2 linked regions of the Homo sapiens genome follow. The protein of the gene in region 2 interacts with the protein of the main gene of each other region in a pairwise test. Each region holds a gene or a part of one and is shown on either strand. Other genes may lie near its edges.

Evidence for each region.
Region 1: the proteins of SSC5D (region 2) and NUP62 interact in binary tests that used the Homo sapiens proteins (3 or more experiments, as listed by UniProt).

What each region holds. Positions count from the first base shown.
Region 1 is NC_000019.10:49,906,302-49,909,708, reverse strand, and holds the end of NUP62 (nuclear pore glycoprotein p62), read left to right. Parts: coding exon 1-1,470; 3' UTR 1,471-2,884; downstream 2,885-3,407. UniProt on the Homo sapiens protein: Essential component of the nuclear pore complex. The N-terminal is probably involved in nucleocytoplasmic transport.
Region 2 is NC_000019.10:55,494,827-55,498,643, reverse strand, and holds part of SSC5D (soluble scavenger receptor cysteine-rich domain-containing protein SSC5D isoform 1 precursor), read right to left. Parts: intron 765-3,817; coding exon 447-764; intron 1-446.

The sequences.
Region 1 (3,407 bases), 5.6 Mb from region 2:
TTCTCCACCTCTGGCACTGGAGGGTTTAATTTTGGGGCTCCCTTCCAACCAGCCACAAGTACCCCTTCCACCGGCCTGTTCTCACTTGCCACCCAGACTCCGGCCACACAGACGACAGGCTTCACTTTTGGAACAGCGACTCTTGCTTCGGGGGGAACTGGATTTTCTTTGGGGATCGGTGCTTCAAAGCTCAACTTGAGCAACACAGCTGCCACCCCAGCCATGGCAAACCCCAGCGGCTTTGGGCTGGGCAGCAGCAACCTCACTAATGCCATATCGAGCACCGTCACCTCCAGCCAGGGCACAGCACCCACCGGCTTTGTGTTTGGCCCCTCCACCACCTCTGTGGCTCCAGCTACCACATCTGGAGGCTTCTCATTCACTGGTGGAAGCACGGCCCAACCCTCCGGTTTCAACATTGGCTCAGCAGGGAATTCAGCCCAGCCCACGGCACCTGCCACGTTGCCCTTCACTCCGGCCACGCCAGCAGCCACCACAGCAGGTGCCACACAGCCAGCTGCTCCCACACCCACAGCCACCATCACCAGCACTGGGCCCAGCCTCTTTGCGTCAATAGCAACTGCTCCAACCTCATCTGCCACCACTGGACTCTCCCTCTGTACCCCTGTGACCACAGCGGGCGCCCCCACTGCTGGGACACAGGGCTTCAGCTTAAAGGCACCTGGAGCAGCTTCCGGCACCTCCACAACAACATCCACCGCTGCCACCGCCACCGCCACCACCACCAGCAGCAGCAGCACCACCGGCTTTGCCTTGAATTTAAAACCACTGGCGCCAGCCGGGATCCCCAGCAATACAGCAGCTGCCGTGACCGCTCCACCTGGCCCTGGCGCAGCTGCAGGGGCGGCTGCCAGCTCCGCCATGACCTACGCGCAGCTGGAGAGCCTGATCAACAAATGGAGCCTGGAGCTAGAGGACCAGGAGCGGCACTTCCTCCAGCAGGCCACCCAGGTCAACGCCTGGGACCGCACGCTGATCGAGAATGGAGAAAAGATCACCAGCCTGCACCGCGAGGTGGAGAAGGTGAAGCTGGACCAGAAGAGGCTGGACCAGGAGCTCGACTTCATCCTGTCCCAGCAGAAGGAGCTGGAAGACCTGCTGAGCCCACTGGAGGAGTTGGTCAAGGAGCAGAGCGGGACCATCTACCTGCAGCACGCGGATGAGGAGCGTGAGAAAACCTACAAGCTGGCTGAGAACATCGATGCACAGCTCAAGCGCATGGCCCAGGATCTCAAGGACATCATCGAGCACCTGAACACGTCCGGGGCCCCCGCCGACACCAGTGACCCACTGCAGCAGATCTGCAAGATCCTCAATGCGCACATGGACTCACTGCAGTGGATCGACCAGAACTCGGCCCTGCTGCAGAGGAAGGTGGAGGAGGTGACCAAGGTGTGCGAGGGCCGGCGCAAGGAGCAGGAGCGCAGCTTCCGGATCACCTTTGACTGAGCGACAGCAGCCCTGGGGCCCGCAGGTCCCTAGGGAGTTCATGAGGGGAATGCGCCCTGTTGTCTGTAGTTTGGGGTTGTGGCAAGATACTTGTTTGTTTGTTTCTTTCTTTCACATGACTGCCCTTGACATGATCGCTGTGTGCTTTGCGTTTTTCCATTTAGGAGGGTATTCTGGGCCTTCTGCCCAGGCAGCAGCCTCATGGGTGTGGCTTCTGTGGCTTTCATTTGAGTATCTTTGGCCCCTTTTCACCTACTGCGACCACCCACCTCATCCTGGCTCAGCCTGGTGATGGAGAAGTGCTGATGGTCTTGGTCCCAGCCAGGGTCGTGGGGGCAGCCACTCTCTCCAAAGCATAGTCATAGGTGTCATGAAAAAATACCAAATGTAAGAGAACCTCCAAGTCAGGGCGCAGTGGCTCACCCCTGTAATCTCAGCACTTTGGGTGGCCAAGGCGGGCAGATGACTTGAGGTCAGGAGTTCGAGACCAGCCTGGCCAACATGGTGAAACCCCGTCTCTACTAAAAATACAAAAATTAGTCAGGTGTGGTGGACGCCTGTGATCTCAATCTCAGCTACTCGGGAGGCTGAGGCAGGAGAATCACTTGAACCCAGGAGGTGTTGCAGTGAACCAAGATCACACCACTGCACTCCAGCCTAGGCAACAGAGACTCTGTCTCAAAAAAAAAAAAAAAAAAAAAGAAACTCCCAGGAGACAGCAGCCTAGTTTTCGAGTGTGAGCTTGTGCTTGTGAAAGCTAACCATGCTAACCACCAAGGCAAAGCAGCACAGTGTGAATAGAACAGAGCGGGATCAAGAATTTCACAGAAGACAGGTCAGCTGAGGGGCCTGCACACACAGGGTGTTGAGGAACCACAGATGGGCGCCGAGAGGCCTGCCTTTTGCCTGGCCCAGGCTCACCCCCACCTTGGGCCTCACCTCCTCCAGGAAGCCTTCCCAGCTACCCGAAGCTCAGGTGGCCTTCTTGCAGGTCCCCGTAGCACCCTGAGCCTGTACCTTGGGTGGCACTTGTTATGCTATCCTGTGCTAGCCGTTTGTGCCTCGTCTCGCTGTTAGATTGTGAGTTCCCATGGGCAGAGACCCACTGTCGTTCCCCGTGTGTCCCCAGCCCGGTCCCTGTCACATTTGTTAAATGAAAGAACAATGAAGCCCAGTGTAACGTCAGTCCACAGAAATAGCCACAGCTTCCAGTGGTGGCCGTAGACTTGGCTCGGAACTTAGTGGCACCAGAGTAACTCTAGTCAGTTACAGTAAAATCCACTGTGTGTGGAAGGCAGAAGCTAGCGGTTGTATCCCAAGCATCTTTTGTATTTGTCTTTATACTTTGCTGAATTCTCTGAAATACCTATTACTGTATGTTGCTTTTCTAAATAAATGTATTGTGAAACCAAAACAGCTGCTGTTAATATGGATAAATGTTAGGAGGAGAAAGCTGAGTAAAAAGAGCAGGTTCCAGGAGACTCTGCAGGGGTGCCATTCACATGAAACGCACAGGCAAGCAAATGAAGTAGTGCTTGCATAGACATAGGGGTATGCGATGAAGCAGCTTTTGTTTGATGAGACAGAGTAATAGACAAATGCAAATCGTGGTTTGCTCCAGGAAGGGGTGGTGCTAGTGGTAGAAGAGGAACACACGAGTGAAGCCGCCACGGGGAGTGGGCTCCAGGTGTTTTGTGACAGTTATGTCGTAGAATATACACAAATATGGCTGGGCGAGGTGGCTCACACCTGTAATCCCAGCACTTTGGGAGGCCAAGATGGGCAGATCACTTGAGGTCAGGGATTCAAGACCAGCCTGGGCAACATGGTGAAACCCCGTCTCTATAAAAACTACAAAAAAGTTTGGTTGTGCGTGGTGGCACGCAACTGTGGTCCCAGCTACCTGGGAGGCTGAGATGGAAGGATCATTTAAGCCC
Region 2 (3,817 bases):
TCTGCAATTTAATAACAGGCATTGCCTGAGTTTATGTTAACTGGCTCTCACTTTGGCTTCTTTCCATCTCCCAGTGCCCTGCCTGCTTCCTTTCATCGTAGGAAAGCTAAAGCTCCTTTCTTAGTGGGAAATTTCCTTGATTCCTGGAAGGAAGAGGAAGCAGAAGCTTCTCTGAGTGGGAATCCCAGATCTGCCAGTTAGTTGTTGCTGTGTGATCTTGAGCAAGTTACCCAACCTCTCTGTGCCTCAGCTTCTTTATCAGTAAAATGGGCATAACACACACCACCCTAGACTTATTATGTGATTTCAATGTGGTTATATGTGCAAAAACACCCAGCACAGGGCTGGGGCTTAGGAAGCACTCAATCAATGTTAGTGCCCATGTTAGTTACTGTTCCCCTCCAGGAAGCCCTCCTGGAGTCAACAGATAGCTAGGGCCTCCTTACCAGTGCAGGTGACCCCAACATCCTCATTGTGAGCGCAGTTGTGCTTTCCCCAGGGAGCAGCAGGGCAGTCGGACAGTGAAGCCTCGGTCCCCACACAGCCCACATCATCTAGCCAGATGGGGCCCGCACCCCAGCCAAAGCGGCCAGCAGCAGGGTCTGGCTGCTGAGGTCCACCACAGCCCAGCTCCCGGCAGACCACAGCTGAATCCCGCATGTCCCAGCTATCGTCACACACGGTCCCCCAGCGCTGGTCATGCCACACCTCCAGTCGACCTGAGCACTTGCTGGGCCCAGCCACCAGGCGCAGCTGGGGGGACCCTGGGGTAGAAGAGACCCAAAGAATTAGAGTCGGGGAAGCCGCCCAGCCTCCTGACTCTTCATCCACCTTTCCCTCCCCCCATCTTCCTTTCCACTCATCCATCTAGGCCTTCCCTCCATTCATCCATCCTTTCCTCCAGGCAGCAAGTATTTCATGAGGCCTTTTTTGTGCCATTTTCTGCATTAGGCATGAGGGATAATGAGTCAGGCAGAGTTTGGAGGATCCTCAAAAAGCTACACATCAAATTACCATATAATCTAGAAAGTCTGCTACTAGGGATATACCCAGAATAAACTGAAAACAGGTATTCACACAGATACCAGTATGTGAATGTTCATAGCAGCACCATTCACAGTAGCCAAATAGTAGTGGTTGTACAGCATTTTGAATGTATAAATACCACTTAAGTTGTATACTTAAACTGGTTAACTTTATGTTACATGAATGTCACCTCAATTAAAATAAGTCTTTTTCCATGCAGTTGTTCACCACCCTTAATTTTCTCTCATTATTATTGGTTTAATAAGGGTTTTTTTCTTCTTTCTTAGATTTTATTTTCCTAACCACTAGACCACCAGGGATAATAAGGTGTTTTGTTGTTGTTTATGAGTCAGGCACAGCCTCTGCTTTGAAAAGCTCTCGGTCTTCAGGGAAAGTAGCATGCACACACTTCATTACAGCTCAGCGAGCTAAAGGGAGTAGTGGAAGTACCCAAAGGGCAAGGCAGACACACAACGAGGAGAAGGTGAGAAAAATTCTGCCTGAGGAAGCTGGAGAAGGCTTCTCAGAGGAAGTCCTTTAAAAGACAGGGAGCAGCAGGCCCGGCACGGTGGCTCCCACCTGTTAATTCCAGCACTGTGGGAGGCCCAGGCGGGCAGATCACCTGAGGTCAGGAGTTTGAGACCAGCCTGGCCAACGTGGAGAAACTCTGTCTCTACTAAAAATACAAAAATTAGCCAGGCATGGGCCAGGTGCAGTGGCTCAGCCTGTAATCCCAGCTACTCCGGAGGCTGAGGCAGGAGAATCGCTTGAACCGGGAGGCGGAGGTTGCAGTGAGCCAAGATCGTGCCACTGCACTCCAGCCTGGGTGACAGAGCGAGACCCTGTTTAAAAAAAAAAAAAAAAAAAGACTGGTAAAAATGGTAAACTTTATGTCATGTATGTTTTATCACAATTGTTTTTTAAAGAACGTGCGCCCTGGAACAAGTGTTTTTGCTTGAATCCTGGCTCTCCCATTTCTCAGCGGTGCTGCCTCATCTGTAACATGGAGACCTATCAGTATCCACACCACAGTGGCTGTAAGCATCACCTGGACTGAGACACGGAGAGAACTGGGAACAGCATCAGTCACCAGGAGCCAGTGCATGCTCGTTCAGTGTTAGCTGATATTATTATTCAGGAAAAGGGGAACGAGACCTCTGGGAATGGTGATCATGGTGAAAATAAGTTGCTGCTTTTGTTCGGCCTTTTCCCATCTTGAGGAGACAGCTGTGTTAACCACGCCTTTTTATTTTCTGTATTTCTGATGCTTTGACATCTTGGAGCATTCCTGATCCTGAGGGACTGCCCCTCCCAGGGTTAGCTAATTCCTAGAGATGGTAAATGGCTTGAGCATGCCTTTCGTGTGCAAACCACCCTCTCCACTGGGCTCTCACACCCTGGGCCATTCTGCACCTGTCCTCATTGCCCCAGGGCCAAGTACCAGATGACTAAGGACAACCCTCTGAGTCGCCACCCTCCCCACCGGCCCCACTGAAATTCTTCAAACCAGCCAGTTCTAAGCCTGCTCAACCTGTCTCACCTATTCCTTCCTGCAAAAAACACAAGAAAGACCCCTGCACCTGGCCGGGTGGCTCACGCCTATAATCCCAGCACTTAGGGAGGCCAAGACAGGAGGATCACCTAAGGCCAGGAGTTTGAGACCAACCTGGACAATAGTGAGGCCCTGTCTCTACAAAAAAAAAAAAAAAAAAAAAATAGCCAGGCTCGGTGGCATGCAGCTGTGTTACCCAGGAGGCGGAGGTGGGAGGATCACTTGAGCCCAGCAGTTTGAGACTGCAGGGAGCTGTGATTACACCACTGCACTCCAGCCTGGGCAACCAAGTGAGACCCTGTCTCTAAATAAATGTATAAAAGATTCCTGCCATGCTTCCCCCTCACTCCGTCTACCTCCTGCCTGGCCCTGGTGCTTCCCTGTGTGGCCCCGTGTGGCACGCCATCCTCTTGAGAACCGTCAGTCACAATCTTTTTAGTGGCTGTCATCTCCTGAGATCCTGGCCTCACCATACCTCAGTAATAATAACACCTATATTTTAAAACAACAGTCCTTTCAATACTCATGAAAGAGACCAGGCACGGTGGCTCACGCCTCTAATCCCAGCACTTTGGGAGGCCGAGGCAGGCAGATGGTTTGGGATCAGGAGTTCAAGACCAGCCTAGGCAACATGGCAAACCCCATCTCTGCAAAAAAAAAAAATACAAAAAATTAGTAGTCCCAGCTACTTGGGAAGCTGAGGTGGGAGGATCACTTGAGCCTGCAGGTTGAGAGGTTGAGGCTTCAGTGAGCCATGATCACACCACTGCATTCCAGCCTGAGTGACAGAATTAAATCCACTCTCAAAAAAAAAAAAAAAAAAAAAAAAAAATATATATATATATATATGAAAGGAGGCAGGCAGAACCATTGATCACATTTGCTAAAGAACCAGAGACTCTGGAAAGTAAAGGTAATGTTTGAGCAGGGCTGTTCCTTGAAGCTGGCCTGAGTACCCCATGATGGATCCTACAGCCACACCGTGCAGCTTGGGAATAGAGCAGACTCTCAGCCCAGCATCCTTTCTCTTATCCAGGACTGGCTACAGAATTTTGGGGGCTTGGTAAATGACGAAAGTTAGGACCCCTTGTTCAAGAATTATCACACGCTCCCAGACGCAACAGCAGAGCATTGAACCCAGCTCAGTGTCCTGGGCGAGGCCCCTGTGCTCCTCTTCTCCACCTTTCTCTTTGCAAGAGGCCCCCCATGAGACAGTCTCAGAGCTGAGGGAAGGAAACA